2 separate regions of the Homo sapiens genome follow, and region 1 is linked to region 2. A link means that fine-mapping ties the variant in region 2 to the expression of a gene that starts in the linked region. Tissue or cell type: monocytes. Region 2 holds a variant in brackets; the other region holds the start of a gene. All regions are shown on one strand. Distances are between the middles of the regions.

Evidence for each region. PIP is the estimated chance that this variant, and not a neighbour inherited with it, causes the effect.
Region 1: it holds the start of IL4R, and the variant in region 2 is fine-mapped to the expression of IL4R in monocytes (Quach 2016, PIP 0.95).

The regions. Positions count from the first base shown.
Region 1 is chr16:27,309,152-27,317,242 of GRCh38, forward strand. IL4R (interleukin 4 receptor) reads left to right here and starts at 4,823. Exons shown (of 11, transcript NM_000418.4): 1 at 4,823-4,869. RefSeq lists enhancers at 2,014-3,213, 4,036-4,766 and silencers at 4,544-4,843, 4,864-5,073, 5,514-5,563.
Region 2 is chr16:27,243,619-27,251,722 of GRCh38, forward strand. The region is part of intron 2 of NSMCE1 (NSE1 component of SMC5/6 complex); the gene reads right to left. Among named protein-coding and RNA genes, the nearest start is that of NSMCE1-DT, 21 kb to the right of the region's middle. The variant G/T (reference allele first, on the strand shown) is at 3,765.

The DNA.
Region 1 (8,091 bases), 66 kb after region 2:
CCACCCAAAAACTTGCACATGAGTGTTGATAGCAGCTTTATTCATAATTGCCAAAAATTGGAAGCAACAAAGATGTCTTTCAATAGGTAGAATGGATAAACTGTGGTACATCCATACAATAGGGCACTATTCAGCCACAAAAGAAATGAGGTGTGAAGCCTGGAAAAGACATTGAGGAACCTGAAAAGCATATTGCTAAGTAAAAGAAGTCAGTATTAAGAGACTACATACTTTCTGATTTCAATTACGTGACATTCTGAAAAAGGCAAAACTATGGAGACAGTAAAAAAATCAGTGGTTTCCAGAATCCAGGAAGAATAGGTAGAGAATTGGGGATTTTTAGGGAAGTAAAACTATTCTTTATTTTTTTCTTTTTTTTTTTAGAGACAGGGTCTCATTCTGTTGCCCAGGCTGGAGTGCAGTGGCATGATCATAGTTCACTGCAGCCTCGAACTCCTGGGCTCAAGGGATCCTCCTGCCTCAGCCTCTGAGTAGCTGGGACTACAGTGCACCACCATGCCTGGCCTGTTTTTTGTTGTTGTTGTTTGTTTGTGTTTTTTGGTAGAGACCGGGTCTTGCTATGTTGCCCAGGCTGGGAAACTATTCTTTTTGTTGCTACATGTGTGGATCCATGGCATTATACATTGTTAAGACCCAGAACTTGGCTGGGTGCATTGGCTCATGCCTGTAATCCCAACACTTTGGGAGGCCGAGGCTGGTGGATCACTTGAGGTCAGGAGTTCAAAACCAGCTTGGCCAGTATGGGGAAACTCCGTCTCTACTAAAAATACAAAAATTAGCCAGGCGTGCACCTGTAGTCCCAGCTACTTGGAAGGCTGAGGAGTGAGAATCGCTTGAACCTGGGAGGCACAGGTTGCAGTGAGTTGAGATCACGCCACTGTACCCCAGCCTGGGTGACAGAACAAGACTCTGTCTCAAAGAAAAAAAAAAGACTCAGAACTGTGCTGCAGAGGTTAGGCACAGTGGCTCATGCTTGTAATCCCAGCACTTTAGGAGGCTGAGATGGAAGGATAACTTCAGCTTAGGAGTCTGAGACCAGCTTGGGCAATGTAGCAAGACTGTCTCTAAAAGTATAAAAAAAAAAAAGCCTAGTGTGGTGGCATGTTCTTGTAGCCCAAGCTACTCAGAAGGCAGAAGCAGGAGGATCCCCTGAGTCCAGGAGTTCCAGGCTGCTCCAGCCTGGGCAACAGAGTGAGACCTTGTTTCCAAACAAGCAAACAAACACAAAACAAAACAAAACAAAACAAAACCCCGAGAAACAGTGAAACAATGTATGCTATGGACTTTAGTTTATAATAATGTATCAGCATTATAAGGAAGGCACTACACACTAATGCAAGATGTTGATAAAAGAGGAAATTTTGCATGGGGGAGAGGGATGTATGGGAACTCTCAGTACTATCGGCTCAATTTTTCCATAATCTACAATGGTTCTAAAAAATAAACTCTATTAGTTTTAAAGACCGAAAGGCTTGGAAACAAGTAAGCGTGTTAGGATATAATGAGGATTGAGCTTATACTGAGGCAAGACTTGGGAACCCCTAGATGGGGGAACAGAGGTTTTACTATCTTGGTGCCTTTGGACCTGCTCCCAGGACTGACGGAGCAGTCACAGATAAAGTCTGGGCATCTTGGGCAGGAACTTGAACAGTGGGACTGTATGCAAGAAGACATTTATTATCTCTCTTGCACCCGAGAACAATGCCCTGTTTTCTTTAACTTTGTAATTTGACATAATTTCAGACTGGCGGGAAAGTTGGGAGAAGAGTACAAAGAATTCCCGAAGTCTCTTCCCCCAGATTTCCTGAATGTCTTAGCCTCTGACCACAGCTGTGCTTTCTTTGCCTGTCTTCTCAATGCCACGTTCATCTCCATTTCACAACCAAGCAACAGACCAAGGCAACAGGCTTCGACTTTGCTTCTTTCTCATTTTCATCCTGATAAGAACAGCAATTGACATTTTGAATGCCTAATCCACGCCAGGCACTATTCTAGGCACTGCGATACGTACCTTGCCATTTCACCATTTCATAGCCCTATGAGGTGGGTCTATTATTATCCCCATTTTACAGATGGGGAAACTGAAGCACAGGGAGGATGATCTACTTTGCCCAAAGTCACATAGTCAATACGTAGCAGAGTTGGTATGCCAATGCCGGCAGTCTAGAGGCAAGCGAGGAAACCGACGAAGGATGACTTGACTGGGAAAACAGGATGGGAGCCCAGTTTGGGAGTCCAGGAGGGGATATAGCCCAAGCCATACATTCCCAAAGGACTTCAAAGGTAGACTTTTGCTGTCGTCTCCCGATGACATGGGGCACAAACTCAGAAACACAGACAGGACAAAGGCAGCTTGCAGGGCTGAACTGCCTGGGATGAAGCATCAACCGTGTGGGTGTGCGGATGTGTGAGTAATGAGTGTGAGGGAGTATGAGTGTGGACGGGAGTGGAAGTCACACCTAATCCAGAGGATTCCTATTCCTCCTGAAACCCAAGCTTCCAGGAAAGCCCTTCCTGTGGCCTTCTCTCCCTAGTCCTCTTAGCGTCTGCCTGGGCTGCCCCCAGTACGGGGTTTATTACACTCAATTGCTTACATCTGTTCACTTCAATTGCTTACGTCTGCTCACTTGTCAGTGCCCCAACCAGGTCCTCAGGGCTAGGAAGCAGGGGCTGGATCTATTTCTTGCTCTCCCTAGCCCCCAGCTCACGACTTGGCATATGGAGGCATCCACAAACAGATGCCGAAGGATGGGAGTTTTTCCACACTCCCACGCCACCTCCAGGTATTTGCTCATGCTGTCCCTTCCACCTGCATGTTTTTCTGCATTGATTCAGGCACTGGTCAGAGGTCACCTCCTCCAGGAAGCCATCCCTGACCCCAGGGAACTGACTTATCTTTACTGTCACTTCCGGGGGTGGGTTGGTGGCTGTCTTGCTCACTTGGTTGTAAGGTCTCAGAGGGCAGGGATTGTGTCTGTTTCATGTCTTCAGGTCTGCGTCATCAGCGCTTGTCACAAGGTTAGACACACAGTAGGACCAAGACAGACCAAGTACATGAAAGAATGATTGACATATGGGCCAGGCGTGGTGGCTCACACCTGTAATCCCAGCACTTCGGGAGGCAGAGGCAGGCAGATCACCTGAGGTCAGGAGTTTGATACCAGCCTGGCCAACATAGTGAAACCTCATGTCTACTAAAAATACAAAAATGAGCCGGACGTGGTGGTGCACGCTTGTAATTCCAGCTACTCAGGAGGCTGAGGCAGGAGAATTGCTTGAACTCAGGAAGTGGAGGTTGCAGTGAGCTGAGATCACCCACTGCACTCCAGCCTAGGCAATGGAATGAGACCCCATCTTCAAAAAAAAAAAAAGAATGATTGACGTGCAGTGGCCCCTGCCCTGGGAAGCCAACCCTCACCCTCCACCACAGCACTTGATCCCATTGGGCAGTCCTTGGCTTCCACCCTCAAACTGAGAGCTCCTTGAGGGCAGCAGGGGGTCAAATTACTCTCTGGGTTCTCAGCACTGCCCAGTGTGAGTCCAAATATCTCCCACCTCCCCTGTCTCCGCTCTTTCCTCACTCAGGGCTCCACAGCCATGCCGGCCTTCAGCAATTCCTCCTGCAGGCTGAGCTGGTTCCCACAGGGCCTTTGCACTAGCTCTTCCCTCTCCCTACACAAGTCTTCCCCCATAGGCTCTTCAGAGTCTCAGCTCAAATGGCCTCTACTCAAAAAGCCTCTTCCAGACCACCTGCCCCACTGGTCTAAGAGGTCCCTACTTTCTTCTTGGGCCCTCCTGACCTGAAATACTTTGTTGAGTGTTTTCCCCCCAGTCATCTGGCTGCATCCGGGTTCTTATGGTGTCCAGACGTTAATGGTCTATGGGGCCTGTGTTCGAATCCCAGCTCCACCCCTGCTCCTGCTTACCTGCAGAGTGATTCTGAGTTTCTTTCTTTTCTTTTTTAAAATTTTATAAATGTCAATTTTTGTAGATAGGGGTCTCGCTAACAGGGTTGCCCAGGCTGGTCTCGAACTATGGGGTTCAAGTGATCCTCCCGCCTCAGCTTCCCAAAGTGCTGGGATTACAGGCATGAGCCACTTTGCCCAACCCATTTTGAATTTCTTAAGGACTCTGTGCCTCAGTTTCCTGATTTGTAAAACCGGTGATAGTATCACTCCCTTATAGGGTAGTTGCCAGGATTGAACGAGTTAACATTTGCAGTGCCCGACAGATTGTACTAGTTACTGATTGAAGGGCTGTTTTACTATCCAAATGTGGCTGGAGTAGGAGTTGGGTAAACATTTATTGAAGAATGTGCAACCACTCTCACTTGGAAGCCGGGCTGTTAGGAAGGGGAGGAGGATTCCAGTCGCCCAGCCCTCCCCCACCAAACGCAACTGCCCCGGCGCAAAAGAGGCCGCGGAGGCCAGGCAGGAGCAGGTCCTGGAGGCCTGGTCGGCGTGGGCGTTTTATTCCGAGACCAAGGGGATCCACTGCAGAGTTCTCCGCTGGGCGTGACCTCGGGCTACGGCGTGGGAGGAAGCGCGCGGCAAGACACCCAGCGAGGTGCTGGGGTCGCCCCCAGGAGAGGACGGCGGCTCGGACTGTCCGGCGGCGGCGGCGGGGACAGCGACAGGGGCGCGAGGTGGCCGGGACCCGGGCCGGGCGCGCCGGGCGGGGCGGCGCATGCAAATCTGCCGGGCGCCGGGGCGGGGAGCAGGAAGCCGGGGCGGGCTGGGTCTCCGCGCCCAGGAAAGCCCCGCGCGGCGCGGGCCAGGGAAGGGCCACCCAGGGGTCCCCCACTTCCCGCTTGGGCGCCCGGACGGCGAATGGAGCAGGGGCGCGCAGGTAGGATCCGGGGCCCGCGCGCGGATCGGGTTGCGAAGGTATCGCCCGGGCACGCCGGCTGAGGGCGTTCGGGAAGGGCTCGGCCGCCGGCGGGGACCACGGGGACCACCCCGACTCCGAGCGGGGCCCGAGCCCGCGACTCTCGGTGCGCGCGGAGCAGCGCCCGGTTCCGTCCTTGCCGCCGAACGGCAGCGGAGGCGCGAGGCCCGGGGTACGTGGACACCCAGCGCTCCCCAAAGCCGGTGCTGGCAGTGAGACCTCCGCCGGGACGGCCTGCGGGGGTGGGGGGCTTGGGGTTAGGCTGTCGGAGGCCACGCAGCCCCTCTTCTCCGGGCAGTGGCGCCCAGCCCTGCGCTCAGGAAGTCAGTGAGGACTTCGGAGAGAGAAAGGGTGGGGAAAGTTCTGAGAACTGTAAATTTGAGTAGTAGGTCAGTGAATCGGGGCGGTCTCCGCCTCCGAATATCAGATGGACCCAATAATCGCGATCATTGACTGGGACTTGTTTTACTGAAAGGATGCCAAGTGAAACCTCCCACTAACTTCTCTGTGGCCGGTGCTGTGCGTCATGGACATTGTACAGATGAGGTCACCAAGACCCCAGCCGCTTTAGTAACTTGCCCTAAGGTGCCGCCCACTTGGGAGTCCGTGGGGCAGCAGGACTAGAGCCCAGGCAATCCCACGCCAGAGCCAGCTGCTCTCCATCTCTCAATCACGTTTGAGGAGCCCCCACAATAACCAGAATCTCCGGGAGATTTGCTTAAAATGCAGATTCCCAGGTCCTTGCCCTGAGATTCAGATTCAGTAAACCCAGGAATCTGATCTTTATTTTATTTTTAAAAATTTATTTTATAAAGATGGTGTCTCACTATGTTGTCCAGGCTGGCCTCAAGTGATCCTCCCACCTCGGCCTCCCAAAATGCTGGGATGACAGGTGTGAGCCACTGAGCCCTGATTTTTTTTTTAAACAAAATCTGGATTTCTTAGACTTAAGCAAGATAGGGGACCACTAGTTTGTCTGCTTCTGGGGTTCAAGGAATGCCCCCAGGCCAGCGCTAACCCTGCTCCAGTTCTAGTCTCTCCCCTTCCCCAGCCCTCTGGGAGGCATGACCCACTGCACTTCCCTGCCCCCAGTAGCCTATGAGGAGCCCAAGGCATTTGCTGGGACCTCAGTGCCTTTATCAAAATCCCAAAGTCCAATGGGGAAACAGGCTCAGGTGTAGGTTTGGCCAGGGTGTCCTGCACATTAGGGCATTCCAGGGTCCTGCAGGGGTTTCTTAGAACTCGGCTAGCCCAGCCCATGAATGGGAGGTGACCTGCTAAGCCACTCATTCACTCACTAGCACTCATTCAGCTCCTGCGAGGCCCTGGGTGGTGTTCTGGGCACTGGTGCTTGCCTCAAGGAGCACCCCCTCTGCAGGAAGACAGACGTGAGGGCTGGGAGGGTGCGGATGCACCAGCGGCTGCAGGACCACAAGCCAGAGGGGATCAGCTCTTCAAAGGTCACTGGGCCAGGCTTCCCAGCACCCAGGGACCCTGAGCTAGCCTTGTGAGTAGAGCAGGGGAGTCTGGCAGGTAGAGGATGGGAGGTAAAGGGAGGCACAGAGTGGGCGGAGGCTGGGAAGTGTGAAAGGGCACTGTGTACAGAACCTAGGGAGTAAGCAGAAGCCAGAGATGGATGGAAAGTTGGGCTGGGCTGCATTGTGGAAAGCCTTGAATGCCATGCCAAGGAACTTGGGCCAGTGTATTCACCTTGGCTTGAGTTGTAAAAGCAACAATGCAGATTCCTGGGCCCCACCCTGGGCCTCTGGATCTGAATCTGGAGGGAGACGCTGGGGAGGCAGCAGGGAGGAAAACCTGCAGTCACTCACCCCATTTACAACACATGCAGTTACCGGCAGGTCCGAGATAACCTAAGGGTTTCCAAATGCTAGGAAGTGACTCAATGACTGATATGTTTAATACAATACAATCCCGGTTGCAAAATGCCCAGGGCAAGGGTGGGGGTGTTCAGTTTTCTAATGCTCCCAGTTCAAAAAGGAGCTGAAATGAATTGTCAAAGAAGTGACAAGCTGGGCGCAGTGACTCACACCTGTAATCCCAGCACTTTGGGAGGCTGAGAGAGGATCGCTTGAACCCAGGAGTTTGAGACCAGCCTGGGCAACATAGTGAGATCCTGTTCCTACAAAAAAAATTTAAAAACTTAGCCAGGCGTGGTAGCAGGTGCCTCTAGCCCCAGCTATTTGGGAGGCTGAGGTGGGAGGATGGCTTGAGCCCAGGTGGTCAAGGCTGCAGTGAACTATGATTGTGCCACTGCACTGTAGCCTGGGTGACAGAGCGAGACTCTGTCTCAAAATAAACAAATACATAAATACATGAGAAGAGAGAACCTTTTCTACCTCCCCCATCTCCCTGCCCTCTTCCACCCACCCCATCTGGGACGATGGAGGAGAGCGTTTGGGATTAGATGCCCCACCTCTCGACTGCCCTCACTGGTACCTGGGAGTGAGGCCAGGACAGAAGCCGCCTAAGTACTGTTCTTCCTCACATTTGTAAAAGTGAACTTTCTTGAGGGTTGATGACATGTTTTATAAGCTACTTCACACAATGTCCAACACCCAGTGGGTCCACAATCAATGTATATGTCTGTTGTTACCTGTCAAAACGTATAGCTGGGGAGTGACAGTATGGACTTGAGCCAGATCACCCAGTGCAAATGCTGGCTTTGCTGCTTACTGTGTAACTGACTTCCCAGAGCCTCAGTTTCTGCATTTATGAGATTATAGTGACTATGCCATTGTAGTGATGACTAAATGAGTTAATATATGTCAAGCATACAAAACAGTACCTGGTATGTAGTACAAACTATGTATTTGTTAAATGAATACCTTTTTTTTTTTTTTAGAGCCATGGTCTCTCTCTATTTCCCAGGCTGGAGCACAGTGGCACAATCATAGCTCACTGTAGCATCCAATACCTGGGTTCAAGTAATCCTTCCACCTCAGCCTCCTGAGTAGCTGGGACTACAGGTGTGTGCCACCACGGCTGGCTAATTGTTTTTATATTTTTAGAGACAGGATCTTGCTATGTTGCCTAGGCTAGTCTTGAACTGCTGGTCTCAAGCAGTCCTCCTGCCTCAGCCTCCTAAAGTGTTGGATTTATAGATGCGAGCAAACGTGCCTGGCCTAAATGAATAAATCTTTACTGTTGCCTCCTTTGAGCTTT
Region 2 (8,104 bases):
GGCAGGATCAGTAACTGATACTACCCTAATTGATTTTATTTTATATTTTAGAGATGGGGTCTCGCTCTGTCATCTAGGCTGGAGAGCAGTGGTGCAATCATAGCTCACTATAGCCTTGAACTCCTGGGCTCAAGTGATCCCCCCACCTCAGTCTCCCCAGTAGCTGGGACTACAAGCACGAGCCACTACGCTCAGCTAACTTTGTTTCTTCTGCAGACCCTGAGGTCTCGCAATGTTGCCCAGGCTGGTCTCAAACTCCTAGCCTCAAGTGTTCCTCCCGCCTCAGCCTCCCAAGTAGCTGGGACTACAGGCATGTACCACCATGCTTGCCAGCTTCCCTAATTTTTATCCCTGTTTCTAAGAGACAACAAACCAGAGAAAGCCACATATGTACTTCTAACCAATCACATAGGACGCCCCACTTCTGGTTAGCTGTCTCCACCTTGCCCTGGCCAGCAGCCTCCACTCAGGCACACCTGAAGCCTCCCCACTCCTCTGCCTTCCTGGAGTCTCTGCTAAACCCAAGTGGAGGCTGCCTCTCTTGCTGGAGCAAGCTCTAAATAAGCAGCTGCTGCCTGTTCTGCTGCCTGGTCTCCGTTTATGTTCACACTTTATCCGTGGAGGACTCAATTTGGTGCCCATTCTGGGCTAAGCAGGGGCTAAGAAGTGGCTGGTATGAAGGCGGCTGACTGCAGTCGCTCTGACAGGCGCACGCCCTTCCCTTTCCCCACTCACTACAGTCTGAAGCAGACAACAGCCTCCAACATTCTCCCGGTGTCCCCTCTAGCCTTCTCCATCTGTCTGTCCTCCACATGCAGCTGAGTGGAGCCAGGTCCCAGCACTCAGCCTGGAAGATGTCTGGGGCTCCATCCCCTGACCTATGTTGCCACCTGCCTTTCTGTCCCCCACTCCCCCACACCAAGCTCCTCCCCATCTCAGCCCCTTCACTCATGCTGCCTTCCCTTTGGAAAGCGTCTCCCGCATATCTCTGCAGGGCTGCCCCTCATCACCCGAGCATCGCCACATATGGCAGCTCCACAGAAAGGTTTGAACAGAGGCCCTGGCCAAAGCCACACCCCAGGCCCGCTCTACCGAGGGACTCAATGCTTCCTTCCAGCACTTAGCACCCCAAACTACCACACTGTCTGCCTCCGAGTTACGGTCTTTCTCTTTCTAAGCAGAATGCCAGCTCCCTGAAGGCTGGGATCTGCTCATCCTATTCACCACAGCAGCCCAACATTCAGCTGACACTCAAGACGTATCCGTCCACGAACCGAGGAAGATGTGTGGTACAAGTGGTGACCATGCTTTGTGAATTTTCTAGGAAAACCCCAAGAGAATTCAGCCCTGTGGTCTATAAAATAATTCCTATCACACTATCATACCAGCACCATGGGTCTTCTGATAGTCACCCCCCACCACTCACCCCCAGCAATTGGGATTAGATGGCAAGTTAAGGGGCAGAAAAGGAAGGAAGAGGCAGTGGTGAGCATGAAGTGAACGTGTGCCCACAAGCACTCTGTGCCAGGCGCTGAACATACATTCCCTTGCTTAATCCTCAAGACTCTTCCATGAAATGAATGTGATGTCCCTTATAACACAGAAAGCTGAGACTCAGAAAAGTAAAAGAACTTTCCCCAGACCCTGGAAGAAACAGGACTTGAATTCATGCCTTTGAAAAATGGCTTCCCTGTTCCAGCCAGCGGGGTCTGTGGTAATCCCACTGAATCCATTCCCAGTACTTCCACGCATCAGCACATAACCTCTCTCATGTCTGGGATCCAGTTCAAAATGCATTCCCAAACACATGATGTGTGTGCTTAGGGGAGCGTGAAGCGCACAGAAATCCTGGCTCAGCAACTCCATGCTGGCCTGAAAGGGCTGCGGTGGAGCAGTCCAGCCTGGACTCCCAGGCTGCAGACATGAAGAACGGGCAGGACTTGGACACATCTAGGCCAGCAAGAGCCAGAGACACAAAAGCAACATCAATTTCCTTGTGGTTACAGAGCTTCTTGAACCCAAAGATTCCTGTCTAAGCACTTAATAACTGCCGGCTGTCAATTCTGTATGTTGAGAAATTCATCGAGTCACACGTTAGATGTTACTTTTCATACTCATTTTTTGCCACTTTTCAGTTATGATCCCAGACTTTATCTCCCTTGATTAACTGAAAGGCAGACCGGCTCTGACAGTGGTATGCTGATTAACTGTTCATCATTGCCAAAGGGGAGATCTATAAATGAAATCACTAAAAACAGAAGGAAAATGTACTTGGAGCCAGCTTCTAATTATGACTGAGTCTTCCTTGGAAAGAGAAGGTGCTTACAAATAGGACTACAGACAGGATGGAATACTAAACCAAAATGTCAACATCGCTGATTCACCATCAACGCACGTAGCCTGATGATGTACAGGAGTCCAGCGTGAGACGACGAAGCAGATACAGGCATGTCAATCAGCACGCTGGAAACAAACCCGGGATGAAGGCAGATAAGAGAGTTGACAAAAACAGAAAATCTTTATCAAACCCCAACGTGACCATGATACTTGACTCACTCATCTAGTTTTGACACATGTATTTCAGCGACCTGGTTTTTGCCCAAACATCAAATTATTTACTCTGCTCACTGAAGTATTTCTAAACCTAAATTTTTAAATCTAAAACTTCAGACATTTTTACCTAACTTGTCCTTAAAACAATAGATAATTTAAAACCTCATAAAAATTAACATTAAACATGATAATACAGTGTAATTAGTTCTAAAATGTTAGTGCTGGAGAGTATAGAACTGTACCTCACAGCAGTCTGGCAACCATAAAATAAGAATGAATCCAGGGAAGTATTTTAAAACTAATAGGTAAAAATGGGATGAAGAGTGGGATTATTTTTTGGAACAGGGTCTTGCTCTGTCACCCAGCTGGAGTGCACTGGCATGATCTTGGCTCACTGCCACCTCTGCCTCCCGGGTTCAAGGGATCCTCCCACCTCAGCCTCTGAGTACCTGTGATTACAGGCTCATGCCACCAGGCCCGACTAATTTTTTTATTTTATGTAGATACAGTGTTTCGCCATGTTGCCCAGGTTTGTCTCAAACTCCTGAGCTTGAGTGATCCACCTGCTGCAGCCTCCCAAACTGCTGGGATTACAGGCATCAGCTACTGCACCGGGCCAAGAATGAGATATTTACCTTGTCTCTAAGTACCTCCCTGCAATATACTTATTAATCACATAGAAAAAGAGTAATTGTACACTGGAGAAACCTGGCTGACCCCATCAACACCGTAGCCGACCTGGTAGGATGCAGAGAGAACACAACACCGCTTCCATATTATATCTGCAAAGTTAAAACTCCTAGATCTAATTAGGAGGAAGCTCCAGACAAACCTAAGCTGAGGAACATTCTACAAATAGCACATGTGGCTACTGAGCACTTAAAATGGGGCCAGTCTAAACTAAGTGTAAAATACATATTGGATTGCAAAGACATATTTCCATCACCCCCAATATGGTTTGGCTGTGTCCACCCAAATCTCATCTTGAATTGTAGTTCCCATAATCCAAACATGTCATGGGAGGGGCCTGGTGGGAGGGAATTGAATCATGGGGGCAGTTACCCTCATGCTATTCTTGTGACAGTGAGTGAGTTCTCAAGAGATCTGACAGTTTTATAAGGGTCTTTTCCCCTTTTGCTCAGCACTTCTCCTTCCTGCCTGCCACCATGTGAAGAAGGATGTGTTTGCTTCCCCTTCCACCATGACTGTAA[G/T]TTTCCTGAGGCCTCCCCAGCCATGCTGAACGGTGAGTCAATTAAACTTCTTCCCTTTATAAATTACCCAGTTTTGGGTATGTCTTTATTAGCAGCGCGAGAACGGACTAATACACTCACCAAGTTTCCTTGTGCCTCTTTGTAATCCCTCTCACCTACCCATCCTATCCCTCCTCTATGCCATCCCCATGCAACCACTGAACCATCCTGTCATTACAGTCAGGTACGCATTGTCTAGAATTTCACATAAATGCCTTCATATGGCCGGGCACAGTGGCTCACACCTGTAATCCCAGCACTTTGGGAGGCCGAGGTGGGCAGATCACGAGGTGAGGGGATCAATATCATCCTGGCTAACACAGTGAAACCCCATCTCTACCAGAAATACAAAAAAATTAGCCGGGCGTGGTGGCACACACCTGTAGTCCCAGCTACTCAGGAGGCTGAGGGAGGAGAATCGCTTGAACCTGGGAGGTGGAGGTTGCAGTGAGCGGAGATTGCGCCATTGCAATCCAGCCTGGGCGACAGAGCAAGACTCTGTCTCAAAAAAAAAAAAACAAAAAACAAAACAAAACAAAATTGCTTTATACTCTTTCACCTCACTTCTTCCACTCAGCAAAATCATTCTGATTCATTCATATTCTAGCATGTAGGAAGAGCTCACTTACTTTTATTGCTAAGTAGTATGGATTTATCACAGTCTGTTCATCTGTTCAACTGCAAATGGACAACTAGGTGTTCACATTTGGGGCCATTACAAATAAAGATACTCTATCTCTGCACAAGCCTTTGTGCGGGCATATAGCTTCATATCTCTTGAATAAATGCCTAAGAGAGGAATGGCTGAATCATAGGAAATTGCCACACTGTTTTCCTAAATGGCTGTCCCATTTTACATTCCCAACAGTAGTATATTAGAGTTCCAGTTCCTCCATGTTCTCACCAATACTTGCCTTGCAGAGTCTTCTTCATTTTAGCCATTTTAATACACATGCAGTGGTAGCTCACTGCGGTTTTAGTTTGCTTTTTTTTTTTTTTTTTTTTTTTGAGACAGAGTGTTGCTCTCTCCCCAGGCTGGAGTGCAGTGGCGTGATCTCAGCTCACTGCAACCTCCGCCTCCCGGGTTCAAGCAATTCTCCTGCCTCAGCCTCCCAAGTAGCTGGGACTACAGGCACCCGCCACCAAGCCTGGCTAATTTTTGTATTTTTAGTAGACACAGGGTTTCACCCTGTTGGTCAGGATGATCTCAATCTCCTGACCTCGTGATCCACCCACCTCGGCCTCCCAAACTGCTGGGATTACAGGTGTGAGCCACCATGCCTGGCCTGCATTTTTTAAATGTCTAATGATGTTGAGCATCTTTTCATGTGCTCATCTGCCATCTGTACAACCGATTTGCAGTGTTCAAATATTTTGCACACTTCTTACTGGGTTGTATGTTTTTCCTTTTCCTTTTCTTTTTTTGAGACAGGATCTCCCTCTGTCACCCAAGCTGAAGTGCAGTGGCACAATCTCAGCTCACTCCAACCTCTGCCTCCCAGGCTCAAGCAACCCTCCCACATCAGCCTCCCAAGTAGCTGAAACTACAGGTGCATGCCACCATGCCTGACTAATTTTTGTATTTTTTTGTAGAGACGGAGTTTTGTCATGTTGCCCAGGCTGGCCTCAAACTCCTGAGCTCAAGCAATCCACCGGCTTCAGCCTCCCAGAGTGCTGGGATTACAGGTGTGAGCCACCACGCCCAGCCGGGTTGAATGTTTTCTTATTTTTGAGCTTTGAGAATTCTCTATATATTCTGAATACAAGTCATTCATTAAATACATTATTTGCAAATATTTTCTCTTAGTATTTTGCTTGTCTTTTCAGTCTCTAAAGAGTATTTTTTAATGTAAATTTTTAATTGTGAAGTTCAATTTATCGATTCATTCTCTTATGGAGCATGCTTTTGGAGCCAAGAAATCTTGGACTAATCATAGGTCACAGAGGTTTTCTCCTATGTTTTCTTCTGGAAGTTTTATAGTTTCAGGTTTTACATTTAGGTCTATGACTCATTTTGAGATAATTTTTGTATTTGGTGCAAAGTATGGCTTGCAGTTCATTTTTTGATTATGGATATCCAATTATTCCAGCACTCATTTTGGAAAAGACTATTTCCACTAAATTACCTTTGCACTTCTGTCAAAAATCAGCTGTCCACCTATGTGTGGGTCTGTTATCTAGCTCTCTTATTTTTTTCCCTTCATCTGTTTGTCCATCATGACATGACTACCACACTGTCTTGATAGGACAGCCATACAGTAAGTCTTGAAATCAGGCAGGGTTCCTCAAGTTTGTCTTTTTCAAAATAGTTTTGGCTCTTCTAGGTCCTTTACATTTCCATGTGAATTTCAGAATCAGCTTGTTAATTTTTATAAAAAGCCTTGCTGGGATCTAACTGGGATTTCTTTGAATCTATAGATCAATTTGGGGAGAATTGATACCTTAACAATACTGAATTTCCCAGCCCATGAACATGCTATGTCTTTCCACTTATTTAAATCTCCTTTGACTTCTCTCAACAATGTTTTGTAGTTTTCAGTGTACGGGTCTAACACATTTTTGCCAGATCTATTCCTAAGCATTTCTTATTTTTAATGTTATTATAAATGGTGCTATTTTTACATTACCATTTCTGATTATCCATTGCCAGCATATAGAGAAACAATTGGTATTTGGATATTGATTTTGTATCCTACAACTTTACTAAACTCACTTATTAGTTCCAGAAGATTTTTTGTAGATTCCATCAGATTTTCTACACAGATGATCATGTTGTCTGTGAACTGACAGTTTTACTGTGTCGTCCTTTCTAATCCAGCTACCTTTTGTTTCTTTTTCTCGCCTCAGTACACTAGCTAGAACAAAAGTGGTGAGAACAGACATTCTTGTCTTTCTCCTGAGATTAGGGAAAAGTATTCAGTCTTTCACCATTAAGAGTGATGTTAGCTGTAGGTTTTACAGAGATCCCCTTTATCAGGTTAAGGAAGTTCCCTTCTTTTCTCACTTTGCTGAGGGTATTGTTTTTGTTTTTGTTTTTTAATCAGGAATAGCTGTTGGATTTTTTTTTTTTTTTAAACTCTGTGTAGAGGGCCAGGCGCGGTGGCTCATGCCTGTAATCCCAGCACTTTGGGAAGCCAAGCCAGGGAGATCACTTGAGGCCAGGAGTTCAAGACCAGCCTGGCCAACACGGTGAAACCCCACCTCTACTAAAAATAACAAAAATTCGTCGGGCGTGGTGGCACGTGCCTGTAATCCCAGCTACTCGGGAGGCGGAGGCAGGAGAACTGCTTAAACCCAGGAGGCGGAGGTTGTAGCGAGCTGAGATGGCACCACTGCACTCCAGCCTGGGAGGCTTTTTTGAGACTCTCTCTCAAAAATAAAATAAAATAATAAAATAAATGAAATTTATTTAATTTTAACTGTTTTTTTTTTTTTTTTGAGATGGAGTTTTGCTCTTGTTGCCCAGGCTGGGGTGCAATGCACGATACCAGCTCACTGCAACCTCTGCCTCCCGGATTCAAGCAATTCTCCTGCCTCGGCCTCCCGAGCAGCTGGGATTACAGGCATGCACCACCGTGCCCAGCTAATTTTGTATTTTTAGTAGAGACGGGGTTTCTCCATGTTGGTCAGGCTAGTCTCGAACTCCCGACCTCAGGTGATCTGCCCACCTCAGCCTCCCAAAGTGCTGGGATTACAGGCGTGAGCTACCGCGCCCAGCCTTAATTTTAATTATTTAAAATATATATATATATATATATATATATATATAAATATATATATATATATAAAACTCTGTAGAGTTCAGACTCCTCACTTGTGTTCTAAGTCTATTTATCCTATTTATCCCCTGCTACTTAGGATCCCTTAGCTTCCTATAAAAAACTTTCTGCTACATCACACCAGGGCAAACATGAGATTTTGTCAAATACTTTTTCTGTACCTATTGAGATAAACACAAGATTTTTCTTTTTTAGCTTAATATGGTGAATTACACTGATTTTCAAATATTAATACTAAATCAACCCTGCAAAATCAGGATAAACCCTACTTGGTTATGTCGTACCATCCTTTGTAAACACTGTTAGATTAGATTTGCCACAGTTGGGTTTAGCACGTTAACGTCTACGCTCATGAGGAGTCTTGTTTGGGGTTTTCTTTCCTCGCAATGTCTTTGTCTGGTTATGGTATCAGAATCATGCAGGTCTCATAGAATTAGTTGTAACATATTCTCTTCAATTTTACAGAAGAGTTTGGGTAGAAATGGTGTGAGTTCTTCCTCAAATGTTTGGGCCGGGCACTAT